Homo sapiens: one gene and its partners. The protein of the gene in region 3 purifies or fractionates together with the protein of the main gene of each other region. This does not show direct contact. Each region holds a gene or a part of one and is shown on either strand. Other genes may lie near its edges.

Evidence for each region.
Region 1: the proteins of CAB39L (region 3) and STRADA purify together in Homo sapiens (affinity purification with mass spectrometry; 3 studies listed by BioGRID and IntAct, with this or other methods). This does not show direct contact.
Region 2: the proteins of CAB39L (region 3) and STK11 purify together in Homo sapiens (affinity purification with mass spectrometry; 4 studies listed by BioGRID and IntAct, with this or other methods). This does not show direct contact.

Annotation. Positions count from the first base shown.
Region 1 is NC_000017.11:63,735,067-63,738,817, forward strand, and holds part of STRADA (STE20-related kinase adapter protein alpha), read right to left. Parts: intron 1-3,751. UniProt on the Homo sapiens protein: Pseudokinase which, in complex with CAB39/MO25 (CAB39/MO25alpha or CAB39L/MO25beta), binds to and activates STK11/LKB1.
Region 2 is NC_000019.10:1,215,646-1,219,396, forward strand, and holds part of STK11 (serine/threonine-protein kinase STK11), read left to right. Parts: intron 1-622; exon of another isoform or gene 623-753; intron 754-2,771; coding exon 2,772-2,855; intron 2,856-3,678; coding exon 3,679-3,751. UniProt on the Homo sapiens protein: Tumor suppressor serine/threonine-protein kinase that controls the activity of AMP-activated protein kinase (AMPK) family members, thereby playing a role in various processes such as cell metabolism, cell polarity, apoptosis and DNA damage response.
Region 3 is NC_000013.11:49,437,428-49,441,178, reverse strand, and holds part of CAB39L (calcium-binding protein 39-like), read left to right. Parts: intron 1-3,751. UniProt on the Homo sapiens protein: Component of a complex that binds and activates STK11/LKB1. In the complex, required to stabilize the interaction between CAB39/MO25 (CAB39/MO25alpha or CAB39L/MO25beta) and STK11/LKB1.

The DNA of each region.
Region 1 (3,751 bases), on a different chromosome or scaffold from region 3:
ATCGTTTGAACCCAGGAGGGAGAGGTTGCAGTGGGCCGAGATCGTGCCATTGCACACGCCAGCTTGGGTGACAGAGCGAGACTCTGTCTCAAAAAAAAGAGTGAGCTAATTTCACCCATAATGTTACTATACAAATCGTAAGAATAATCAATAAGGTTAAAACATGGCTAAAGGCTCATTAAGAGTAACCTGAAGTCAGAGATTTATACTTAAGGGTGACAATATGGCGTAGTAAAAAAAGCACATACTCTGAAATAAGACGAGCATGGTATGAATTGCGTTCTTGCATCTGTGTTAACTTGATCAGCATACTTTGGCTTGCCGAATCTCAACGTTAATAACTCTAAAATGAGGTTAATGACATCCGTCTGACACCTGAGACAAATATCTTTCTCCCTCTGATAGTGATGCTTATAATAATGGCTTATGTTTCTAGGAGAGACCTTAAAATTAACTTTTTCAGAGAATTAGAAAGATTAGATTTCAGGTTTCTGATTTAAGATTTTAGAATCTCACCTCTCTCCCAAGGTCCCAATTAAGGCAAAGGAATACAAATAATAACCATATATCTGAGGACAGAATGAGAGGAGCTATTAGATGAAATTTCAATAAATTTCTAGGAGTTGAAAAGTGGACATAAGGGTGCTGTCTCAGGAAATGGAGAGAAAGCTGCAGGCTAGAATGTGAATGGAGAGTATAGTAGAGGAGACGGCAGATATGCCCAGCAGACAATCCTAAGGGGTTCTGAAACAAAACTGCGCAATAAGGAATGAGGGAAGGAGAAGTGGGGCTGAAAACAAGCCCCTGGCGTAACTGCCCACTCATGTCCATGAGTCTTAAATCCACAGAGCTCCCAGTCAGCAGCTTTTCTATTCCTCTTTTTTTTTTGAGACGGAGTCTGGCTCTGTCGCCCAGGCCAGGCTGGAGTGCAATGGTGCGATCTTGGCGCACTGCAACCTCTGCCTCTTGGGTTCAAGGGATTCTCCTGCCTCAGCCTCCGGAGTAGCTGGGATTACTGGCATGTGCCACTACGCCCGGCTGATTTTTGTATTTTTAGTAGAGACGGGGCTTAACCATGTTGGCCAGGCTGGTCTCAAACACCTTAGGTGATCCACCCGCCTCAGCCTCCCAAAGTGCTGGGATTACAGGCATGAGCCACTGCACCCAGCCCCATACACGGTTTTTAATGAAATTATTTTAATGTACTCCAAATAATATTCCAGTAAAATGAGGCTAAAATTTAAAAAGGAAGCTATGAGATATAAAAAGTGGTGTGTCCAGCCGGGCGCGGTGGCTCACTCCTGTAATCCCAGAGCTTTGGGAGGCTGAAGCGGGTGGATCATCTGAGGTCAGGAGTTTGAGACCAGCCTGCCCAACATTGCAAAACACTGTCTCTACTAAAAATACAATAATTAGCCAGGCATGTTGGCAGGTGCCTGTAATGCCAGCTACTCGGGAGGCTAAGGCAGGAGAATTGCTTGAACTTGGGAGGCAGAGGTTGCAGTGAGCCAAGATCACGCCATTGCACTCCAGCCTGGGTGACAGAGTGAGGCTCTGCCCCAAGAAAAAAAAAATAATAATAAAGTGGTGTGTCCACTGAAGAGATATCTCAAGATGATAGCTACGAAGCTGATCAAGAAAGGAATCAGTCAAAACTAGAACATGAAGTTGGCAGGTTGAAGAAAATATAATAATATCATGAAATATACAGATTATAAAGGATGAAAAATATCACGGACAGGGTGGAAAGTGGCCTATTTCTTCCCCCCACGCCCCCCCCACCAAAAAAAAATCAAGCAGAAAGGCAACCAAAAATTCCAACAGAAATTAAAACTATATTTTAAAAGTCAAAGTCCGAATTTGAAACAAACTTAAATGTGTTACAATTTTTAGATAGCATGGCTGGGCACAGTGGTCCACGCCTATAATCCCAGCACTTTGGGAGGCTGAGGAGGGCAGATCACCTGAGGTCAGGAGTTCAAGACCAGTCTAGTCAACATGGTGAAACCCTGTCTCTACTAAAAATACAAAAAGTAGCTGGGCATGGTGGCACATGCTTGTAGTCCCAGCTACTGGGGAGGCTGAGGCAGGAGAATCGCTTGAACCTGGGAGGCGGAGGTTGCAGTGAGTCAAGATCATGCCACTGCACTCCAGCCTGGGTGACAGAGCAACACTCTATCTCAAAAAAAAAAAAAAAAAAAAAAAAAAAAATTGAGATAGTTCAGCAAGGAATGAGAAAGAAAATCCACTTGACCTTGAATGAGAAGGAAGTTAGGACAGTGGACCGCAGTGCAGAATAACACTTGGCTGTTTTGTGAATAATACTTACAATACTGTTAAGTGCTCATCATCAGCTTATAAATTTTAAGTCTATAGACAAAGCATGATAAACTTAATTACAGTTATAGAACACAATGTAAATGCCTTCAAATTTGATAATATGAAAGTAAAGTTTCACCTGACAGAAGATGGGAAATGGAACAGGGAAGAGATAGAGGAATGACTGGGGAAGCTAATACCCCTATCTTCCTAAGAAGGTAAAGTTAATACTGAAAGTTGATAGGATAACAAATAGAAAGTTATGTACAATATTTAAGGTTACAAAGGTAACCAACAAGTGTAAAAATAGAGGGATTCAACTATCAAAAGTTTGGAGGTGCTGGTTGGGTACAGTGGCTCATGCCTGTGTTCCCAGCACTTTGGGAAACAGAGGTGGGTGGATCACTTGAGCCCAGGAGTTTGAAACCCCAACTCTATAAAAAATAAAAAAACTGGCCAGGTGTGGTGGCATGTGCCTGTGGTCCCAGCTACTCAGGAGGCTGAGACGGGAGGATCACTTGAGCTCCAGAGGTGGAGGCTGCAGTGAGCTGAGATTGAGCCACTGCACTCCAGCTTGGGCAACACAGAGGGACCCCGTCGAAAAGAAAAGAAAAGAGAAGAGAAAAGAAAAACGAAAATAAACGAAAAGAAACGAAAAGAAAAAAGAAAAGAAGGGGCTGGGCACGGTGGCTCACGCTTATAATCCCAGCACCTTGGGAGGCCGAGGCGGGCAGATCACAAGGTCAGGAGTTCGAGACCAGCCTGGCCAATATAGTGAAACGCCGTCTCTACTAAAAATACAAAAATTAGCCGGGCATGGTGGCGGGCACCTGTACTCCCAGCTACTTGGGAGGCTGAGGTAGGAGAATTGCTTGAAACCGGGAGGCGGAGGTTGTAGTGAGCCGAGAGTACACCACTGCACTCCAGCCTGGGCGACAGAGCGAGACTCCGACTCAAAAAAAAAAAAAAAAAGAGAAAAGAAAAAGAAAATGAAAAAAAGAAAAAGTTGGGAGGCAGTGAGGAGGGGGTGGTGTGAGATTCAGCATGACCTTTACTCTCTTGGAAAAATAAGGAGAAGCTTCACTAGTCATTTCTCTGTCTCTCCTGTCAGTGGAAAGTCTAAACATGTTGTTTAGAATTACAGAAGTCCATCATTAAAGGACTAAAACAAAAAATGATTAAATTAATTGAGGCCAGGCCCAGTGGCTCTGCCTGTAATTCCAGCACTTTGGGAGGCCAAGGCAGGCAGATCTCCTGAGCTCCGCAGTTCCACACTGCCCCAGGCAATATGGTGAAACCCCATCTCTCCTAAAATACAAAAAATTAGCAGGGTGTGATGGCATGCACCTGTAGTCTCAGCTACTCGGGAGACTGAGGCAGGAGGTTGCAGTGAGCTGTGATTGTGCTACTGCACTCCAGCTTGGGCTGCAGA
Region 2 (3,751 bases), on a different chromosome or scaffold from region 3:
TGCACTGGGAGGGAAAGGTGAGCCAAGGCTTCCTGCAAGAGGCAGCCCTGAGCTGGGGGTGGGGAAGGCTGGGTCGTGGGATACCCCTGACACCCCAAGTTTTTTTTTTGAGATGGAGTCTTGCTCTGTCACCCAGGCTGGAGTGCAGTGGTGAGATCTCGACTCTCTGCAACCTCCGCCTCCCAGGTTCAAGCGATTCTCCTGCCTCAGCCTCCTGAGTAGCTGGGATTACAGGCGCCCATCACCACGCCCGGCTAATTTTTGTATTTTTAGTAGAGACAAGGTTTCACCATGTTGGCCAGGCTGGTTTCGAACTCCTGACCTCAGGTGATCCACCTCGGCCTCCCATAGTGTCGGGATTACAGGCGTGAGTCACCGCGCCTGGCCCCCCAGCTGTTTTTTATGCTCCATGCTTGGGCTTCCTGTTAAGAATTAAAAAAGAAAAAAAAAACTATGGAGATGGAATTTACATACTGTACAACTCATTCGTTCACAGTGTACAATTCAGTGGCATTAAGTACATTCACACGGCTGTGCAACCACTACTTCTAATTCCAGAACGTTCGGTCACCCCAAAAGCAAGCCCCATTCCCATTGTGTCACTCTCCATCCCCTCCACCAGCTCCTGGCCACTCTGAATCCACTTCCTGGCTCTGGATTGGCTTGTCCTGGATATTGCATAGAAATGGGATCCTGTCGGCCGGGCGCGGTGACTCACGAGAGCAAGAGATCCAGACCATCCTGGCCAACATGGTGAAACCCCATCTCTACTAAAAATACAAAAATTAGCTGGGCGTGGTTGCGGGCACCTGTAGTCCCAGCGACTCAGGGGCTGAGTCAGGAGAAATCGCTTGAACCCGGGAGGCAGAGGTTGCAGTGAGCTGAGATCATGCCATTGCACTCTGGCCTGGCGACAGAGTGAGACTCCGTCTCCAAAAAAAAAAAAACAAGAAATGGGATCCTGTCATCCCAGCGTTTTCCGAGGCCGAGGTGGGCAGATGACTTGAGCCTAGTAGTTCAAACGAGACCAGCCTGGGCAGCACGGTGAAACTGTCTCTACTAAAATACAAAAATTAGCTGGGCATGGTAGCACACGTCTGTAGTCCCAGCTACTTGCGGGGCTGAGATGGGAGGATCGCTTGAGCCTGGGAGGTGCACTCCAGCCTGGGCGACAGGGAAACCCTGTCTCAAAAAAAAAAAAAAAAGTGCATCACACACTGTGTGTCCTTTAGTGTCTCACTGTGACATCCTCAAGGTGCAGCTAGGCTGTGGCTCGAGTCAGAGCCTCACTGGTTTTTGTGGCTGAGTCTTGTTGAGTGCGTGGATGGGCTGTGCTGATCCTCGTCTGTGGAAGGGCCCCTGGGTGGTTCCACATCTCGGCTGCTGTGCGTCCTGCTGCTGTGAGCATCTCGTGCTCCGTTTCTGCGTGGCGTGTACTGTTCCTCAGGGTGTGTACCTGGGAGTGGAGCTGCTGGCTCACAGGGTAACAGACCTTTGGAGAAGCTGCAGACGCTTCCACGCCCACCCACTGGGTGTGAGGACCTTGCTCCTCGTCATTTTTGTTTTTGTTTAATTTTTTCTTTTATGAGACAGGGTCTTATTCTGTTGTCCAGGCTGGAGTGCAGTAGCACGATCACAGGTAACTACAGGCTCAAGTGATCCTCCCACCTGAGCCTCCCGAGTAGCTAGGACTTGAGGCACGTACCTCCACACCTGGCTAATTTTTGTATTTTTAGTAGAGACAGGGTTTCGCCGTGTTGCTCAGGCTGGTCTCGAACTCCTGAGCTCAGGTGATCCACCCGCCTCGGCCTCCTATAGTGCTGGGAGAAATGAAGTGTCTGCGACAGGGCGGCAGCTGCAGAGGGGGCTGTGCTCTCTGGCCTGTTGTGCCCCACCCTTGTGACAGGCAGGTGGGCGTGGCCAACTGGGCGGCAGCTGCAGAGGGGGCAGTGACAGGCGGGTGGGTGTGGCAGGACCCCACAATGTCTCTTTCTGTGGCGTCTCCTTCTTCGCCTGCCCCTTCCTATGGGCCATCCTTCCAGCTCACCTGCGGCCCACCCTCCAAGGAGTGGGACCCTCGGAGTTGGGAGCCCTTGGCTGCGTGGGACTGTACTGTGTGACGGAGCCATCACCAGGGCTCCAACTCACCCTGGCTCCTGCCACAGTCTGGGCTCCATCTGTGCTACCATTGCAGTAGTCTGGTTTCTAGGAAGCAAAACTGTTACTGAGTTACAAAGCTCAATTAAGAGTGTCCTTTGGGAGGCCGAGGCGGGCGGATCACAAGGTCAGGAGATCGAGACCATCCTGGCCAACATGGTGAAACCCTGTCTGTACTAAAATACAAAAAAATTAGCCGGCTGTGGTGACACGTGCCTGTAGTCCCAGCTACTCGGGAGGCTGAGGCAGGGAAATCACTTGAACCTGGGAGGCAGAGGTTGCAGTGAGCTGAGATCGGGCCACCGTGCTCCAGCCTAGGGACAGAGCAAGACTCTGTCTCAGAAAAAAAAAAAAGTGTCCTAACTGTGTCCTCCAAAGCCCTCGCCGGCCGATGACAGACTAGAGGGCGCTGTGCTCCCACCCCCTACCGCCCTGAGCCTGGACGCGTGGCCCCTGCAGGGCCCTTTCCCACAGCACTGTGAACTCACAGCTTCTCTCTAGGGAAGGGAGGAGGTACGCCACTTCCACAGGGAGATGGGGAGGCCGACTCCAGGGATCCAGGCCATCATCCTGACGTTGGGTCGGCTGATACACCCCTGTCCTCTCTGTCCCAGGGAAATTCAACTACTGAGGAGGTTACGGCACAAAAATGTCATCCAGCTGGTGGATGTGTTATACAACGAAGAGAAGCAGAAAATATATCCTTTCCGGTGTTGGGACCGCGGGGCCTCCGTGGGAGGGGCTGGGGCCCTGGGTCCGCCTGCCTCGAGGCCTGCTCCTCTTCCCGTCTCCTTGAAGGAGACTGGCACACGAGGGCCGTGGCCTTCCCTGGTTCCCCGGAAGTCAGCCATTGTGGCAATGGCTGCGCAGCTTGCTGAAAGGGGCCCTGAGCCCTGGCCCCTGTGTCTTGGGCCCGTGGGGTGTCAAGTCCCTTTTTTCTCAGAGTCTCCTCCCAGGCTAACCAGGGGTGTAGCCACGGTCTGCCTGAGACAGGCCACGCGGGCTGACCGTTGTGGGCCATTTTGGTCGTGGCTGGGCGTGTCCTCGTGTCATCTGTGGACACCCCCATGGGTCTTACGGGCACAGCCTCCCTACGGGGACTTTGCTTCCTAAGGCCCTGTGCCCAGAGCAAGAGCCAGAAGTGGTCCTGAGGCTGGGGCTGTGTTCCCTGAGCCACGCGGTCAGGGGCCCTGGGACCGTCCTGCATGGGCCCGAGCCTGCTTGGGGGGGCGTCCAGGAGGCACCATCCCCCGCCCATGGGCAGGGTGGGGGACGTGAGCCCCGCAGGAACGCTGCCCCAAGAGTCAGCCCTGTCCTCCCCTTCCCCGTAGGCTCCTTCCTCCTGGGACGCTGGGGCCCCTGGGCCTTTTCAGAGGGGTGGCTGAGGGCAGGGTGGGCCCTGGTCCCGAGGAGGGGCAAGGTGGGTGCAGAGGGTCCCTCCAGAGCCCCTTTTCTGGCCCCCGTGCTCCCTGGGCCTGTGAGTGGGGCCGCCCCCTGAGCTGTGTGTCCTTAGCGCCCCACGTATATGGTGATGGAGTACTGCGTGTGTGGCATGCAGGAAATGCTGGACAGCGTGCCGGAGAAGCGTTTCCCA
Region 3 (3,751 bases):
ATTGCACGAGATTATGAAAACATACCCCAAAAATGTGGCCACAAAGCAGATGAAAATGACAATCTAAATATTTCAGAGTAAGCTAAGAGAATTTAAGGAAAAGATGAAATCTTTGAAAGAACCACATAAATTCAGAAATAAGAGCTCAGACATGAGATACGTAGGAAGTTCTAGCCAGAGCAATCAGGCAAGAGAAACAAAAGGCATCCACATAGGAAAAGAAGTCAGACTATCTCTCTTGGCTGATGATCTGATTGTATACCTAGAAAACCCTAAAGACTCCACCAAAGGCTCTTGGAACTGATAACTTCAGTAAGTTTCAGGATACAAACTCTGTACAAAAATCAGTAGCGTTTCTATACCAATAATGTTGGAGCAGAGAGCCAAATCAAGAATGCAGTCCTGTTTACGATAGCCATACACACACACACACACACACACACACACACACACACACACACACTGCCTAGGAATACCTCTAACCAAGGAAGTGAAAGATCTCTACAAGAACTACAAGACACTGCTGAAAGAAATCATTGATGACACAAACAAATGGAAAAACACTCCATGCTCATGGATTGGAAGAATCAATATCATTAGAATCGCCATACTGCCCAAAACAAGCTACACATTCAGTGCTACTGAATGTGTAGCTTGTTTCAAATTATACTTTGAGGCTACAGTAACCAAAAAAGCATGGTACTGGTACAAAAACAGACATATAGGCCAATGGAGCAGAATAGAGAGCCCAGAAATTAAGCTGTACACCCACAGCCATCTGGTCAACAAAATTGACAAAAGGAAGCAATGGAGAAAGAACTTCCTATTCAATAAATGGTGCTGGGATAACTGGCTAGCCATGTGTATAAGACTGGGCTTCTACCTTACACCACATACAAAACTGGACTTCTACCTTACACCACATACAAAAATCAATTCAAGATGGATTAAAGATTTAAATGTAAGAACTCAAACAGTAAGAATCCTAGGAAAAAATCTAGGAAACATTCTGGACATCAGCCTTGGGAAAGAATTTATGACTAAGTCTTCAAAAGCAATTGCAACAAAAACAAAAGTTGACAAGTAGGACCTAATTAAACTAAAGAGCTTCTGCACAGTAAGAGAAACTATTAACAGAGCAAACAGATAACCTGCAGAATAGGAGAAAATATTTGCAAACTATGCATCTGACAAAGGTCTAATATCCAGAATCTATAAGGAAGTTAATTCAACAAGCAAAAAAAAAAAAAAAAAAAACCCATTAAAAAGTGGTCAAAAGACATCAACAGACACTTCTCAAAAGAACAAGTGGCCAATAAACAGATGAAAAAATGTTCCACATCACTAATCATCAGAGAAATGCAAATCAAAACCATAATGAGACATCATCTCACGCCAGTCAGAATGGCTCTTACTAAAAAGTCAAAAAACAACAGATGTGGGCAAGGCTGCAGAGTAAAGGGAACACTTACACACGGTTGGTGGGAGTGTAAATTAGTTCAGCCACTGTGGAAATCAGTTTGAAGGTTTCTCAAAAAACTCAGAACTACCATTTGACCAGCAATCCCATTATTGGGTGTATATCCAAAAGAAATTGTTCTACCAAAAAGATACATGCACTCATATGTTCATCATAGTGCTAGTCACAATAGCAAAGATGTGGAATCAACCTATGTGTCCATCAGGGATAGATTGGTTACATATGAACCGTGGAATACTATGCAGGGAAGGAATGCAATAAGTGTTGAAAAACTAACTGTTGAGTATAATGCCCAGTACCTGGATGACAGGATCTGTCATACTCCAGACTTCAGCGTTACACAGTATACCCATGTAACAAATCTGCACATGTACCCCCAAATCTAAAAGAGAACTTGAAATTATAAAAAAGTAAATAAAATTCACCTCTTTCTATGTTTTCAGGGGAAAAAAAGAAATGAGATGGCTAGACCATAGAAGGAGGTGCAATGAGAGCAGACAAAACTCAATAAAAGATTAAGAAAAAGACAGTTTAAAGTGATGATTGCATTAGAAACCAAGAGTGAATATACATCACAGAAAGTACGATAAGAAAAATGGAAAAATGAAGAAAATAAAAAGATTTTTAAAAAGGAGTCAAGAGGTGACAAGACAGGCAAAGAGAGCCAGAATAAATATAAATGGAGTTCCCCAAATGTAAGCCCAAGGATAGTGGTGATGTTTATGTAACACTGAATATACTTAATGCCACTTATTGAATACTTTAAAACAGTAAATTTTATGTTCCTTATTTTACTACAGTAAAACAAAGCAAGCCAAAGCAATGGACCAGAACAACTATTAGGACTGTAATTCAAGAACGCTTAACATTAAAGTAGGTTTAAATGTAACATATGTTGAAAGGCATACTGTAAACCTGGAGAAATCAACCCACAACAGTTAACACTGAGATGTGGTCCTGTAAAATTGTTGGATTTTTAAAAATAAACCCTTCTTGCATTGATGGGGGAAATAAAAAGAGCAGGTCACTTGCAAAGAAAATCAGATTGGATTTTTGGTGGCAACATTTTATGTCAGATATTAAGAAAGTATTTATTCAAAGAAATAAAATAATTCCTATCTCACCAAACTACCCTTCAAGAATTCAGGGCATTGACAAACATTTATAAACATGAAATAATTCAAGGAAAATGGCTATAATTGTTCCCATGAATCCTTCTGAAGCGTATACTAGAGAACAAATTTCAGACAACCAAGAAATGATTGGAAAATCTTCAACATAAGGTCAGGTGGTGAGCAAATCAAATATATTTTGTGTGTAGCATCAAGATTAAAAGATGAGGATAATGATGATAGAATAGTATATAAATATTACATGGTCTGACATTGTAGAAATAATATAACCCGCAAAAAAATGGGAGGAAAAGAGGAGGGTGAATGAGAAGTAGAATAAGGTTGTTTGCCTTTTAGGCATTAGCTGGGAGAAAAAAGCCCTTGAAGCTGACAGGTGGAAGCTTAAACATACTCAGAAGTGCAAGATAGAACACTAATAAAAATAATACCAGCTGGACACGGTGGCTAATGCCTGTAATCCCAGCACTTTGCGGGGCTGAGGCAGGAAGATTGCTTGAGCCCAGAAGTTTGAGACCAGCCATCCTGGGCAACATGGCGAAAGCTTGTCTCTTAAAAAAAATAAAAAATAAAAAAATTAACTGGGCGTAGTGGCACACACCTGTAGTCCCAGGTACTTAGGAAGCTGAGAGAGGTCGGAGGATCTCTTGAACGCAGGAGGTCAAGGCTACAGTGAGCTGTGATTGCGCCACTGCACTCCAGCCTGGGCAACAGAGTGAGACCCTGTGTCAAAATAATATTAAATAATAACCAGCAATTTGCAGGGAAGCTTAAATTTCGCTTCTGAAGGTTTGATAACTGAGTTGGCTGAACTAAACTAACAGTAGGTTAACAAGAGAAAACCCATACAAATTTATTGATATGTAAGCATACATTAATAGCTAGCAAAATGTCTATGGGCATGCAGGGAAATCAACACTGCAGTCTAGCAGAATCCATGGAGAAGTGGCAAGCAAGGTGGAGACTGTAAAAAAAGAGGAGAGGTTGCAGGACCTAGGGGTAGCAGAATACAGATAATTCCCAGAAAGAGAAAGCCCCACCCTGGATAGAGAAGTGAGAAGAGGTGTAAGATCCATTAGACAAAATAAGAGACTTGAAAGAAAATGAGACCAAAGACGCAGTCTCATGAAAGTACTGCTTC